2 separate regions of the Homo sapiens genome follow, and region 1 is linked to region 2. The links come from fine-mapping of genetic effects on gene expression. A gene starts in region 2. The other region holds a variant in brackets. All regions are shown on one strand. Distances are between the middles of the regions. Region 1 overlaps SCFD2 (sec1 family domain containing 2). Region 2 holds the start of SCFD2 (sec1 family domain containing 2).

What was found. PIP is the estimated chance that this variant, and not a neighbour inherited with it, causes the effect.
Region 1: its variant is the best candidate, but not a certain one, in a credible set for the expression of SCFD2 in tibial nerve (GTEx, PIP 0.56).

What each region holds. Positions count from the first base shown.
Region 1 is chr4:53,133,129-53,141,472 of GRCh38, forward strand. The region is part of intron 5 of SCFD2 (sec1 family domain containing 2); the gene reads right to left. Among named protein-coding and RNA genes, the nearest start is that of SCFD2-AS1, 210 kb to the left of the region's middle. The variant A/T (reference allele first, on the strand shown) is at 4,455.
Region 2 is chr4:53,361,807-53,370,150 of GRCh38, forward strand. SCFD2 (sec1 family domain containing 2) reads right to left here and starts at 4,255. Exons shown (of 9, transcript NM_152540.4): 1 at 3,298-4,255. The coding sequence starts at 4,135. RefSeq lists enhancers at 3,681-3,730, 3,951-4,150, 4,171-4,220.

The DNA of each region.
Region 1 (8,344 bases), 230 kb before region 2:
CCATCCTGGCTAACACAGTGAAACCCCGTCTCTACTAAAAATACAAGAAATTAGCCGGGCGTGGTGGCGGGTGCCTGTAGTCCCAGCTACTCGGGAGGCTGAAGCAGGAGAATGGCGTGAACCCGGGAGGCGGAGCTTGCAGTGAGCCCAGATCGCGCCACTGCACTCCAGCCTGGGCGACAGTGCAAGACTCCGTCTCAAAAAAAAAAAAAAAAAAAAAAATTCTCTGTTTGGAAGTACTTCATATGTTATAAAGAAGACTCACTTTCTACAAGGCTGGAGAAAATTACTTGGCTAAGTATGAAAAATGCTTTGTTTGAAAGACATAACTTCTCAAACATAATAAACAAAACGTCCATGCCTTGTGCTAATGGAGATGAAAGCTTTTATAATTAAGTGGTAGCCATGAAGAACAATAATAATTTTATATGGTCTACATTAGACCCAGACTTTTCCAAAGAAGAGAGATAACATAAACAAATCATTGCAAATAGATTTTTACTACTGGTTGTAGAATGTGGTCTTGTTTTACTATGGATAAGAATACATACATGGTTTCCTTTGGAAACTAGAGCTAAAGACATTAACATGAGCTGCCTTCCACAACCCAAGGAAAAACAAATCCTCAACTCCTTCCTCATTCACAGTTGATAAGACTCTGCTCTGTTAGATTTCTAGTGGGGAATGTAAGAGAACCCCAATTGAAAGCTCACTAGACTATGCCTACCTTCCCAATGTCTTTAAGAACACTGCTTTCCATTTGTCTGTCAATGAACATTTAGGTTGTTTCCATAGCTTGACAATTATGAATAGTGCTTCAGGGAATACCAGAATGCCAATATCTCTTTGAAAAAATGGACTATTCATTCAACCTTAAAAAAGAAGAAAATTCTGTAATATGTGACAACATGGATGAACCTTGAGGACATTACAGTAAGTGAAATATGCCAGTTACAGACGGGCACATACTGTGTGATTCCATTTATATGAGGTATAGGTAAATTCATAGAATCAAAGAGTGAAATGATGGTTACCCAGGGCTGGGGTGAGGGGAACTGGGGAGTTGCTTGCTAATCAATGGGCATAAAGTTTCAGGTATGTAAGGTGAAAGAGTAGAACTTATTCTACTTATTCTGCTGTGCAACATGGTGCCTATGGTTAACAATACCGTATTGTACACTTCAAAACTTAAGAGGGTAGATCTCATGTTAAGTGTTCTTATCACAATAAAATAAAATTTAAAAAAAAAACAGTGCTTTTTAAACCAGACCTGTCTTTCCTCATTTGTTATACATGGTTGAATTTAAACAAGGTAATGAACAGGTGAGAAAAATAGAGAAGAAAAAATTTAGAGAAGAACTAAAATCAAAATTTTTAAAAAGTTGATGATAATTTTTAAAAAGCGTGGTTCACTACAAAGGTAATTTATACATTTTATGCAAATAAATGTGAAGCTTTTGATTATTCCAATTCGAGTAACAGGAATCTCTATACCATTATTTTATGTCAAAGTTTTGGGAATTAAATAGCAAAGGAAGCACAGATATAGCTGTAGCTAGAAAACATACCATCTTGACAGAACATGAGGAGAGCCTCACACTTTTCCATAAAACTTACTTTTCACATTCTAGTTTCTTAAAGACCTAGAGCTCAATTAGTGCAATTCCTACCAATGCAGAAGGCCCAGTGTCAGTCAGTTCCTCATGCTGGGAAGCTCTTCTCATGGAGTAAATCAGACGTTCTAGCTGGCTTTAGTTTCCAGAGATGTCTGCCTTGTATTTAACCCAAAACTGCCTCTCAGCCTTTTCTGTTCAATAGACAGAGTTCTATGAGAAGCCTACTTCCACTTAAATGGTAACTTTATAGAATCTATTTGAAAAAAAAACCAAAAAACTATTCTACATCACTAGTAAACTTAAGCCAGATTAAAATGTAAACAAATGTAATTTTTTTTTTTAGTTAAAAGTAATCAAAAAAGGAGATCATTGGGTACTTTCCCTTGCTTTCTGATAAAAGTACAGGGCATCATTTTATCCATCTGGAGATCTTTTAGATTTCTAATAATTTCTAGAGTTAGAAATTCAAAAGCATTCCTCTGTAATCAATGCCTAAGGCGGGGGCTCTAGAATAAAGACTGGAAATTGTTAAGTCCACAAGCTGAATTCTGTCCCCCAATAAGATTTATTTGACTCATGTAATGTTTTGGAAAATAAACCAATTTCTTAAACTTTGGTGATTTCAAATTTTTAAAAATCCAGATTCCTGGTTTCTTGAGAGATGGCAATACCAGACTCATGCTTCCCTGGCAAAAATAAGAGGATCTCAGGCTAGGCGTGGTGGCTCACGCCTATAATCCCAGCACTTTGGGAGGCCGAGGTGGGCGGATCACAAGGTCAAGAGATCAGAGATCGAGACCATCCTGGCCAACATGGTGAAACCCCATCTCTACTAAAAATATGAAAAATTAGCTGGGCATGGTGGTACGTGCCTGTAGTCTCAGCTACTCGGGAGGCTGAGGCAGGAGAATCGCTGGAATCCAGGAGGCAGAGGTTGCAGTGAGCCAAGATTGTACCACTGCACTCCAGCCTGGCAACAGAGCGAGACTCCATCTCAAAAAAAAAAAGAGGATCTCCAGTTTGACACAGTCTCCACCACTCCCTATTGTCCCTTTTAGTAAGACTATACATCCCTGCCATTTATCATTGCATTTTCACTGTTGTTTCCCCAAAACCTAACCTACTTTACTTATTTATATTTCTTGCTAGCCTCTGTAAATACCTGAGTTTGAGATTCCTGTGCTAACCCATGATTTCAACCATTTTTAAAGTATGAAGACACAATATAATTATGCTTTTGATACCTGTTAATTGAAAAATGGGAAAAAATTATGCAACTTCAGCACTGTCTTTAAATAAATTTATCTTTTATAAATCACAACTGTATCTACAAATATTTGTATATTTATATGTGAGAGTAATATTTAGTTCATGGATGATACATAAAGCACACATGAATCAGTAAACCTTTGCACTAAGTCTTAGGTTTTCCCAGGGATCCGTAAGCCAAAGGTTGGGAATCACTGGTCTAGTAAAAGGAATTCTGGACTGGGAATTGGGAGACACAAACCTTAGTCCTATCCCCTCATTGAACAGGCTATGATTGGTGATTTGAGGCAAGTCAAATAACCTTTTGTGGCCTCAATTAACCTTGTTGTCCTCATGAGCAGAGCGAATAGACTAGATAATTGTTGAGAACATTTCCATCAATAAAACACAATAATATTATGCCTTATGACTCCTTTTACCTACCATAAAAACCCAGACATCCACAAAACTCCCAAAAAGTATACTTTGATGGATTAAAGGAAAGAATTGTCATGGAAAACCTGAAAACACAATGAAAACTAACTCTACCATTTCCAGATTTAGACACAATACCATATTGTCTGTCCCAAACCATGTTTGAAAAACTAGTAGTGTATCTGCAAATAAATTCTCCCAAAGAGAAGTTCATATTACAGATACATTTCACTTGAATTCAGATATTTGGGCTACATTTATTAGACATGCAAGTTTATGGAAATCAGCACACAACTACTAAGAGTCAGAGTCAAAACCAGAACCCAGATCCACTTGACTCCGAATCCTGTGCTCAGAGCCTCTACATTCTATTACCACTGTCCCAGGGTTTCAATGCTTAGAGAGCTTAGACTAATGCTAGGTACATAAATGTGGTCAATAAATATTGATAATCTGAGAATGTTTATGATATAAGTCCAGCACAGAATAGATCATTATTTCAGTATACACTGTAAAAAATTTTAATATTATAACTGTAATATTAAAACACTGGGCATCACTCCAACTCACAGTATCTTGCCTTAGAATTTCCTCTGTTAGAGAAGTCTGTAATTGTAGCAAATACAAGTTTCCTACCTAATGTACATTTTCACTTTCTATCTTCTAACAGAATCCTTACTTTGTTTATGACAAATATACACCCAGTTACAATATACACTCATCAGATTCTCTTGCAGTCAGAGGTTGCCATGAAACCGAGATCTAGCCAAGGATGCAAGTCTTCTGAGTGGGGCTTTCAAGAAAGCTGTTGTTTTCCTAATAAAAAAGGACAGATTTGGCCAGTATATGCCTTTTACCTTCATCCTTCCTCACTTCTTTCCCAAAGCATGGACACTTCTCCCTGGAGGGGAAGCATCCAGCGCATGACCATGATGATAAAAACCACACCTAGGACAGTGAAGGAGGAAGTCAGAAAGAGCATGAATTCTGTCTGGACTTCTTGCTTAGAAAAACAAACCCCAGTTGTTATGCTAATATGGTAAATTTTTCATTGTATACAACTGGGTATCCTAATGCATATAAAGCTATAGTAATTGATAGTCCCAAATTATCAACAGTAAAATAAGAGTTTGATAAATGTAAATTACAGTTCTT[A/T]GGGTATTATCATGCCTCTATCATGAACCACTGCATAGATACTTTGAGTTATTCATTCTCTAGCTTTACACTAAGCCTAAACAGATCTAGCCCTTGTTGACCTGGACTTTAAAGATACTATAGAAATACAGGGAAAATCAATGAGTAATAATGTGAGTAAATCAATGAGTAATAACAAAACATGTTTAGCAAGACAAATTTTTCCAAAGTAGTTTTTTGTGTCAAAAAGTAATATTAAAGTCTTGTTTTCCTTTGTTTCCTGATTCAGAGCCATCTGACCAATATACCCTAAAGCATTGGTTTGCTCCTAATAGGTCAGAGGTGTGCCAAGCTGCTGCTTCACCTCAGTCCACAGGTCAACTGGGTAGGACCTAGACTGGCCAGAGCCCCCAGGGCTGGTTGCCTTTGTTCATAAGAGTCTCGTCCACTTACCTCAATCTACTATGCAAACATTCTCATTGTCTATGCACATGATGAGAAAAGGGTGGGGAAGCACTACCCTATATGACAGCTAGATGCTATCAAAATCATAATGGTGGTGGGAGAAAAATAGCCTATTTATAATACTAGATGGACCAAACATTAGTTAACACACATAACATCATTTTATTCTCAGCAAAATCAAGAATGGTCAGTAGGGCAGTTACGTTTATATCAAGGTTCAAGGATGGATGATTTGCCCACTAACACTCACTGCTGAAAGACAGCAGAGCCCAGACTTTTAAATCAAGAATTTCTACATCCAAACACTATGCTTTTTTTGATATACCTCTCTATATGATGACATTCCAAGTTTACACAGATCTTTAAAAATAGTGTTTTGATTTCGTTCTCTGAAGAAAATTCAAATGGTTTTCTTTGTTTTCTCTTGTGACTGCCATGCAAACACTAACGTATGTTGAAACTGATACTCTCTTAGAACTTAGCATGACTGAGAAAGCATAACACTAATCAACATACTTGGCTGTACCAATTTTCTTTTTACAGCTCCCTACCATTGAAAAGCAGAGAGCCAACCCTTGACATTTTGTGTGAGTAGAAAAGTGAATTTTTGCCCACCACGCTAGAAATCTCCTCAAAAGTATCTATGAAAAAGTGAACAGAATAAAAGTAAAAGAGTATGCTGCCATTGAGTATGCTTAAATTTTTGTTTTGTTTTGCTTCATTTTGTCAGAGATTTGTATTGCCTTTCCATACAAGGGAAGAATATACAGAAATTAAAGAAACTGTCAAAAGTAAACTACATATTTAACAGATGAAAGAAAATCCCTCTCCCCCTCCCCCTCCCCCTCCCTCTCGTCTCCGTCTCCCCTTTGCACGGTCTCCCTCTGATGCCCAGCCGAGGCTGGACTGTACTGCCGCCATCTCGGCTCACTGCAACCTCCCTGCCTGATTCTCCTGCCTCAGCCTGCCAAGTGCCTGGGATTGCAGGTGCGCGCCGCCACGCGTGACTGGTTTTTGTATTTTTTGGGAAGACGGGGTTTCGCCATGTTGGCTGGCCTGGTCTCCAGCTCCTGACCGCAAGTGATCTGCCAGCCTCGGCCTCCCGAGGTGCCGGGATTGCAGACGGAGTCTCGCTCACTCAGTGCTCAATGTTGCCCAGGCTGGAGTGCAGTGGTGTGATCTCAGCTGGCTACAACCTCCACCTCCCAGCCGCCTGCCTTGGCCTCCCAAAGTGCCGAGATTGCAACCTCTGCCCGGCCGCCACCCCGCCCCACAAGAAGTGAGGAGCGTCTCTGCCCGGCCGCCCATCGTCTGGGATGTGAGGAGCCCCTCTGCCCAGCCGCCCAGTCTGGGAAGTGAGGAGCGCCTCTTCCCGGCTGCCGGCCGTCATCCTGTCTAGGAAGTGAGGAGTGTCTCTGCCCCGCCGCCACCCCGTCTGGGAGGTGAGGAGCGTCTCTGACCGGCCGCCCAGTCTGAGAAGTGAGGAGCCCCTCTGCCCGGCAGCTGCCCCGTCTGGGAAGTGAGGAGCCCCTCCGCCCGGCAGCCGCCCCGTCCGGGAGGTGGGGGGCAGCCCCCGCCCGGCTGCTGCCCCGTCTGGGAGGTGGGGGGCGCCTCTGCCCGGCCGCCCCATCTGGGAAGTGAGGAGCCCCTCTGCCCGGCCGCCACCCCATCTGGGAGGTGTACCCAACAGCTCATTGAGAACAGGCCATGATGACGATGGTGGTTTTGTCGAATAGAAAGGGGGGATGTGTGGGGAAAAGAAAGAGAGATCGGATTGTTACTGTGTCTGTCTGGAAAGAATTAGACATAGGAGATTCCATTTTGTTCTATACTAAGAAAAATTCTTCTGCCTTGGGATGCTGTTAATCTATAACCTTGCCCCCAACCCCCTGCTCTCTGAAACATGTGCTGTGTCCACTCAGGGTTAAATGGATTAAGGGCGGTGCAAGATGTGCTTTGTTAAACAGATGCTTGAAGGCAGCATGCTCGTTAAGAGTCATCACCACTCCCTAATCTCAAGTACCCAGGGACACAAACACTGCGGAAGGCGGCAGGGCCCTCTGCCTAGGAAAACCAGAGACCTTTGTTCACATGTTTATCTGCTGACCTTCCCTCCACTATTGTCCTATGACCCTGCCAAATCCCCCTCTCCGAGAAACACCCAAGAATGATCAATAAATACTAAAAAAATAAAAAAAAAGAACAAAAAGAAAAAGGGATATCATTTAAACACAGTATGTAGAAAAGAATAATTATTGAATCTGTACTGGTCTTTAACTTTTACACTTTGATCTTTAATTCTGTTATTGTGATTGAGTCCAAAGAAAAATAGTATGAGTAAAATAAAAAGAACACCAAAAATGCTAATATATATATATATATATATAAATTTTAATCCACAGGGCAATCACCGTCAAGAGATATTATTGAAATAAAATTTAAGTTTCCTAGCCTTGTTTTAGAAAGCTGGGCAACCAATAGATTTCAATGGCTTGAAGTGATACTTTAATTTCTTTATAACAATGCAGAAACTAAAGAGGATGCATTCATAAAAATAGGGAGGTATGGCAGGATCTATAAGTAGCTAATACAGACAGATTAATAAGCATAGGCAATATCTAACATATTAACCAGAATATTAATTCTCTGTTCAGAATACAAGAACATAATGGGATGGTTGAGCATGCACGGCATAAAACGATATATGTAAGCAAACATGAGTTACAGAATATAATACATGAAATGGTTACCACAGGTGAGGTTGTGGCAGGTTTAGAATATCATGTTTAAAGACATGGGCTACAGATCCACAATACCTGGGCTCAATTCCAGGCTCTACTGTTTATCAGTTGGGTGATGTTAGCACACTTAAATTTTTAGTATACAAAAATGGTTACTTTCTTGATCCTATCAACAGTTAAGATGGTAATGGAGGGTAGCCAATCATATACCCAAAAGATACAGTCCTGAACTCCCTAATCCTTAATGTTGAAATCCTAAAAGATCAGAAGCCCTAAAGCTGAAATCCTAAACATTGTAATCCTAAAAGTATAATTCTGGAAAAAAAATTTTTTAATCTTTAAAGATATTTACATTTTTAAAAGGTGATTTATTTGATAAACAACATGACAGAACATTCCATAAGCCACTTTACACAAAAAAACAGCCAATGATAATCTATATTTTTGTAAGCATAAACACTCAGGTATACTAATGACAGTCACAGAGGTATAACAGTTAAGATGAGAGGAAATATATTTATAGAGAAATAGGGTCAAAAAGGGAAATGTATACATATATCTCTCTAATTGGTAATTGTGTGCACCCAGCTTTACGTAACTGCAATCATCTGAATTACTATGATGAACAACCTCTTGTCTTTTGACAAGATTGATCAAAAACCAAAATGGCTGAGACAGGAAAAAAACAAAACAAAACACACAACG
Region 2 (8,344 bases):
TTTTTCTGCATTTGTGTATTACTAATGATATGATTCAAGAATCTCGGAAACATTTTCAATTAGAAAAAATAAGTGTGTTAATTTCAATTAATGTCTGGTATCTACGACCTTTAATCCACTCATTTATCCATTCATTCAATAAATATATATTGAATACCTACTGTTTTGAAGGTACTCTTGCTGGTTAATAAACAGTAAACAAAACAGAGTCCCTCCCTTCAAGAACTTCCATTCAAGTGGGAGGAGACAGGTAATAAATGATCAATTAGTAGTGTCAGGGAATAGTAAAGGCTATGACAAATAAAGCCAGGTAAGGGTAAGAGAGTGTCAAAGAAGTTCACCCAGGAAGGCCTCTCTGAGGAGCAGGAATGATGTGAGGGAGAAAGCCATATGGATACCTCGAAGAAGAACATCCCAAGCAGAGCTGCAGAGGAAATGCAAAGGCCCTGAGGCTGGAACATGCTTAGCATGTCTGACAATGGCAAGGTAGCCAATGTTGTAAGAGGGGAGATCAGGTATGGCCTTGAAAACAACAGTGAGGAACTTGACAGGAGGTATGATCAGAGGCCACTTGAATACTGAGCAAGTAAATGATATGTCATAGTTATGCTTTGAGGGATTATATAAGAAGCTGGCCTAAGTGGTTGCTTGTCTGTATAGGTTTCATACTTCTTTAATTGTTTTTTAACTATTTGCATGCTTTCCTGTGTCAAATGCTGCTTTGAAGTTCAGTAGAATTAGTGTGGTAATAAAACAAAGGAAGTTTCTGGGAAGTATTGGAAAATAAAACTCTAACTGGAGTCAAGAGAAAATTGGAGCAGATGTTTGTGGAGACAACAAGTATAGACAACTCTTTCAAGTTTGCTATAAAATAAAGCAAAAAAAAAAATGGAATTGAAGTTGGAAGAGCATGAGAGGTCAAGACAGAAGATGTTCCCTGGGTGAAAATACAGAGAAAAGGAAAAAATGATGATCTAAGAAAGGGAGAGGGTATTTGAAAAACAGTAAATCTATGAGAGAAGTGAAAAGAGAGGCTTTAGTCTACATAGGTGAAAAAGTTGGCGTTAGTGGCAGGGACAGTATATTTCTTTTCAATATGAAGGAAGGAAAAAGACATGGGTACAGATGTAGGAAGGGTGGTAGATTTGGTGATGGGAAAATACAGATTTGTTTAGTGGCTTATATTTTCTCAGTGATATTAGAAGCGAGAAAAGTGAGTATGGGGAAGGAGATCTGGACACTTGATAAGGGAGAATCTATAAAATGATTGCTGCCAAATGGCAACTTTGTCTTTCTATGTGTCTTTATTTTGCAAATCATTCTTTTTTTCTTTTTTTTTTCTTTTTTGAGACAGAATCTGACTCTGTCACCCAGGTTGGAGTGCAGGGATGTGATGGTGGTTCACTGCAACCTCTGCCTTCTGGGCTCAAGTTATCCTCCACCTTAGCCTCCTGAGTGGCTGGGACTACAGGTCACCACACCTGGCTAGTTTTTTCATTTTTTATTTAATTTTTAAATTTTCTGTAGAGATTGAGTTTTGCTGTGTTGCCCAGGTTGATCTCAAACTCCTGAGCTCAAGCAGTCTGCCCCCCTCAGCCTCCCAAAGTGATGGGATTACAGGCATGAGCCACTGTGCCGGGCTCTAAATCATACTTGACTACGTTATATTGATACTTGACTACATTATATTGTAAACTTTTAGAGGGCAGAAGTTATGCTCACCTTATTTATTCTGTATGTTTAAAAAAAGGGCGCGGTGGCTCACGCCTGTAATCCCAGCACTTTGGGAGGCCGAGGCGGGTGGATCACGCGAGGTCAGGAGATCGAGACCACGGTGAAACCCCGTCTCTACTAAAAATACGAAAAGTTAGCCCGGCGTAGTGGCGGGCGCCTGTAGTCCCAGCTACTCGGGAGGTTGAGGCAGGAGAATGGCGTGAACCCGGGAGGCGGAGCTTGCAGTGAGCCTCGCGAGATTGCGCCATTGCACTCCAGCCTGGGCGACAGAGAGAGACTCCGTCTCAAAAAAAAAAAAAAAAAAGCATTACCTACTGAAGATGTAAAGAGCTGTTACTATGATGCTGGACAGTGGGATATTAAGTTTTGCCTAACAGAAGTCTTAGGGGAGGGTACAAAATTATGTGAACTTCCCAGTTGATTATGAAACAACTTTGCTACATTTTTGGCATAAAGAGATAGAAGTAACAGTAATATATAGCATCCACAAAAAAACTCAACAAGCATCTACTTATCAGGTTTTATCTTTTAATCCCCTATGGACTCTGTGATGCTACAGTTATTACTTATATATTTAAATCACAGACTGGACACCTGGTTTTTCCAGTCACATAATTAAGTTTACATCTCAGTATTACCATTTAGCCTACTTTCCATTTTTTATCTGAAAATTAATCTTATTAAGATTAAAAACTCAAATATACCTATTTCGTTTTTTATAACTTAATTCAACTTTTTTTCTGACCGATTAAAGGGAATGCCTACCAATGTCAGTTTTCCGATTATTCTCCCTGGACTTGGAAGTGGCTAGGCTATATTACTAACAGTATTATACAACCTAATTAGAGAACAATAAAGTTGACCTTTGAAAATAACATATCAAACATCAGAAAGTGTCTTTTCTTCATCTGCTTTAAGGATTACATTTGTTTCTTTTGTGTAAATAATACATTATTACAATTTGAGATTATTTACTTAATCTTTAATACAATGAGAGCTAAAAATAAATCAATAAACATTTGAAAATATTTTCTACAATTCTATTTCATCTCATTTACTAGTAACATTTAAGTTCAGCCTCACTTTTGAACACTCATTTCCTAAACCTCAATTGTCTGTAATAATTTTATGTTTTCTTGTGCAGTAGTTTTCCTTCCGCTGGGTCATCTATTAACACTTCTCCAACAAACCAGAGTCTTCTTATGAAGGACTGTTGTGAATACTGGCATTCGTAAATTTCTAAAAATAAAATTTCCCAGGTGCACAGTTTTCCTCCCTGTCAGCATAATCTTGGGCTAAAGTTGTTGTTTAACAAGGCAATGGGCATTTATGACATTTCTACCCATTACAGCATTTAACAAATGTTATTGTAATTGCTAATTCACCTGTCTGTATTCCACTTTAGACAATAAACTCTGTGAGATTAGAGACCGTGTCCATCTAGTTCATCTTTGTATCCTCAATCTAATATATAATAAAAGGTCAATAAAATATATGCTGAATCAATGAAAGTCCCAGCAATGTGGGGAATGGTAATGAAGAACTCCAGAGCAATGCACTTACCTGTGAGATCCAGGGTTCTGTCCACAAAAACCACTGATGCCCTGCCTGCAGCAGTCTTCTTCCTGTTCTTTGCAGGGGCATAATTGGCCAGATCCGCAGCGATGACCTGACTTAAGGAACCTACAGCAAAACACTCCTCCCGTACTCCTAAATGTTCACACAGAGAACTGAGGCCTGACACTAGGCATCTGATCTGCAGCAGCAGCTCTGGGGTTAGCGTAGTGGAGTCCACATCACCCAGGCTTCCCAGCTTCCTCTTGTCCGGTCGGGCGCTATTAAGGAGGTGCACATCCTGGGGTAGCAGTGGGAAAAGGGATGCAAAAGCTGGAGTCAAGGCAAAGTGGGGAGCAACAGGGGCAAGCAATAACGGGACATGGAACACCTCGGCCGTGTAGTTCATGTTGCCCATCCATTCACACAGCTTCTCCTCCAGCTGCTCGAACACCGGCTGCTGCCCCTCCATCTCGGCCGCTGCCGCCGCTGGGACATGATTAGCTGTGAGGTGGACAGCGTGGCTCACGGTTGTGACCACCACACAATACTGGAAGTGACTGCGGCAGATGATGTCCCGTAGGATCTCCACGGTCCGGCCTTTCAGCAGGCAGCTCAGCACAAACACTGCCTTGGGCTGCTTGGCTCCACCACCAATTGCGTCGGGCTCGAACTCTCGCAGGTGACAGTCAGGACCCCCCACCGCCTCCAGGAGACGGGTGGATCCGCAGCCCCAGTGCAGGCTCTCGGCGCAGGCGGCGTCCAGGTAAACCACAGCCCGTTTCACTTTGGCCAGCACCTGCTCCCATCCTTGCTGGGTAAAGGACAGTACGCCCGAGGCGCTCATGGTTGGGGATTCGCAGACTTGGGAAACTACGGTGCAGGAACTTCTTTCAGAACTCACCGCTTCCGGAAATTGGGCTCCGGGAGACTTTGACAGTCTCCACAGTACACGTGGTCGGCCTCTGACACGCTCCCTGATGGCGCTCGGTGATGACGTTAAACTGAGCGGTGATTGGCTAGAGAGGAGGCCGGGAGTGAGGAAGGATGGCGCGGTCGGGAAAGAAGTGGGTGGGGCTCTGTGGCTCCGGGCTTCCTCAAAAGCTCGTGGAGATCAGGTGTTTCCTGAGATGGAGCTGAACTGAGTTCTTTCCGTCGCTCGGCCTGTCTGCGCAGATAATCTTCTCAGATAATCTTCTCATGTTCCTTGAAAAGTCTCCGAAATAAAAACCTAATCCGAAATTTGGTATCTTCCTTAGATATGAACACGTCTCCAAAAGTACAGCCACCTTCTCAATCTAAACTCAGAGCAACTAGAAAAAGATAATAAAAACAACCGTGTGCAATATTTTGGGTTTATAGATTGCTGTCACATACGTTATCGCCCACAAGCCTCATAACAAACCCTGTTGTTCTCATTTTCACTTTCTCCATCTTTCCTCCCTCATCTCATCGTCACTACATCTTATAGGCTTAAAAACTCTCAGAATTCAGCCCTTCCTCTCCATTTTTGCTGTCACAAAAACCCAACATCATCGCTCACCCAGGCAATGATCTCCCAACATTTTCTGACTTTTGATCTCTTTACCCTCCAATTCTATTTTCTTCCTAATAAACAAAGTTGGTCCTACAACTTTCCTGCTTAAAAGCTTCTCCTAGCCCAGTTGCCTATAGGATACATCCACACTCTTTAAAAAGCATCAACATCCTTCTTGATTTCTCAATTTCTCTCCAGCTATTCCCAACATGGAGAAAAATTGTACCGATACAATGAAGTCAATAGGCTGAACCCAAAATGTTTTATGGGTTCTGTTTGTTCCACCAATATACTTACATTACTAAGTATAATCTCTGTGCTAAGCTTCAAAGATGCAATGGTTAATAAAATTCATTACCTAATCCACAAAGAATTTACCTGGTAAACTTACCGAAAATAATCATTCCAACAGTACTGCCTGTGAGAGACTTTTTCTAACTCACCACCACTATCACCCTATCACCTCTCACTTCCCCCACCTATCAAACCACTCAATTGATACATTCGCTAAGTACTTGCCATATCATGGGGTAAGTATTAACACTATTTTCTTTAAACTATCTGTTTTGCTAAATTATGCACTAGATGCTTGGTATCCCCAACACTTATAACAGGTGTTCAATAAATGTTCGTTGAATGAATGTTCAATTAATATCCATGGCCAGGCGCGGTGGCTCATGCCTGTAATCCCAACACTTTGGGAGGCCGAGGTGGGCAGATCACCTGAGGTCAGGGGCTCAAGACCAGCTTGGCCAACATGGTGAAGCTCCGTCTCTACTAAAAGTACAAAAAATAGCTGGACATGGTGGCAGGTACCTGTAATCCCAGCTACTCGGGAGGTTGAGGCAGGAGAATCACTTGAACCCAGGAGGGAGAGGTTGCAGTGAGCCAAGATGGCACCACTGCACTCCAGCCTGGGCGACAGAGCGAGACTCTGTCTCAAAAAAAAAAAAAATTCCACATAATAATATATCCAGCCAATTTTTAATAAATACGTACAGTATTCCAAACACTGTCTGGGTTTTAAGGATATAAAGAAAACTAAACCACAGCCCTGATTTCAAAATAATTATGATGAAATAAAGGGACCCACACATGTAAAACAAGTGCAATAAAATGTTACAGAAGCAAATACTTTTTAAAATTTTTTGTATAGGAGTCAAGAAGGAGGAAAAATAAATTCTAAGAGAAAAAGGAAGAAGTCAGAAAAAGCTTCATATAGGGCATGAGTTTTGACTTGCCTTCAAAGAAACCCAGGTGTTCACCAGGTGGACAGGATGGGGAGGAGGATTCTTAGCAGTCCAGGCACAGAGTGCAGCATAAACAAAGTCGTAGAGGCATAAAACAGTACAATATGTTCTCTGGAACTACAAAGGGTTTCCTATAGCTGGAGTGCATTGTATGAAAAAAGGCGCAAGAAGAAATAAGAGCAAGGAATTAGAAAAGAAAGAAATGGGCTAGATCAGCAAGAGCCTTATTTTCCATTCTAAGTAGTAGCAGCCAGTGGGGAAGTATTAATGTATTTTGGGGTATGGAAATAATTTGTTCACATCTGGATTTTAGAAAAAAAATGGTTCTAGTCAAAACATGGAAAATAATTTGAAATGGAGCAATTTAGCGCAGAGGGAGCAGTTAAGAAAATAATAGTATCAGCAGCAAATCTGGGTGAGAGAGTTGAAAAGCGTAACAAGCAGATGGACAGAGTGGGGAGTATGAATAGACGTTAAGAATATAGTGCCAAAGGGCTTGCTTATTAGTTTGACAGAGAGGGTGACACGGAAGGAGAATTTCAGGTTAGCACCCAGCTTTCTGTCTGGATGACTGATGAATGCCAGTCATTGAGATTTGAAAAACCATTAAGAGAAGCAGATTGCGGAATAAATACAGAGTTTAGTGGGGACATATTTTTGTTTGTTTGTTTCCTTATGGCAAGATAAGTGTAACATAAAAGTCACACCATCTTAACCATTGTAAAATGTACATTTTGGTGGCATTAAGTACATTCACATTGTTGTATAACCAATCTCTGAACTTCTTGTCTCACAAAACTGAAACCCTGTACCCATTAAACAACAACTCCCCATTCCCCCTCTCCACAGTCCTTGGTGACTTCCACTCTACTTTCTGTTTCTATGAGTTGACTACTCTAGTTGTTGGCAATGTAGTAGTTGACTACTCTAGATACCTCATATAAGTGGAACAATACAGTATTTGTTTTGTTGTGATTGACTTATTTCACTTAGCATAAAGTCCTCCAAGTTAATCTATATTGTAACGTGCATCAGAATTTTCTTTCTTTTTGAGGCTGAATAACATTCCATTGTATGTTACACCATTTTGTTTATCCATTCATCTGCCTATGGACATTTGGTCTGCTTCCACCTTTTAGCTATTGTGAATAATGGCACCTTGAATATGCAGCAGAAGAGTCATAAACCTGGTAGAACCTAGTAGGTAAAAGGGCCAATGACAGACCCAAGTTCAAATGTTGAACTAGTAAACAAGAAGATATTCCTACATGTTTGTATCCTTGTCAGCATGAAAATTATTTTAAGGAGCTTAAGTTGAATAAGTTGTTGGATGACAGCCCTTGCTCTTCCATTTAAACCCAGGTCAGTGCCTAGTTACTAACACCTGCATTAATCTTGATCTCAAGCTCACTTTTTGTTTCTACCCCTTGCATCTCATGCTGAATCATACATTCATTAGGTAAGTTTGAGTGAATTAATACTTCATCTTCTCTGAAAGGGCAAGGCACTCATGAAGTCATGGTTGAATATTGTGCCAGTAAGTGCTAGTGGTCGCCTCAATATTTATTTGTCTCTTCTTCTGTAGTAATAGGTTTATTCTGAACTCATAGACACACAGCTAAAGACTACTTTTCCAAGCCTCTTGCAGCTAGCTATGGACAAATGATGAGGCACGGGTGAATAAGATAGTTGGAAGTGACACATACAGATTTCAAATAATTCCCTAAAGGTGTATGGTTTTCTTTCCCTACAAATCCTACTTTCAGTTCTTTTGTACATGGACCCAGAGTGGAATTGCTGGATCATATGATAATTCTATTTTTAACTTCTTGATGGACCTCTGTTTTTGTTTTGTTTTTTACAGAGGCTGCAACATTTTATATTCCTACTAATAATGCACAGGGGTTCGGATTTCTCCACATCCTTGCCAACACTTGATATTTCCTGGGTTTTTTGATAATGGCCATCCTAATAGGTGTGGGGACATGAGGTTTTCAATATGCTTGTGGGACATCGAGGCAGAAACATCTAGCATGCTGTTGGATGTGTGATTCCAGAATACAGAAGAGAAATATGGTAATTGGGATTATTAGTAAATGGGTGTGCTTCAGAGTGCCTTAAGAGAACACAAAAAAGAAAGAAGACAATGATGGTGATGGAGAGAACTCTGAGCAACTTTTCTTGATGGGCAGAAGAAGTCAAGCCAGTGAATGGAGTAATGAGAGGTGCAAGTTTTAAGACTAGAGTGGCCAACAGTGGCAAGTGTCAG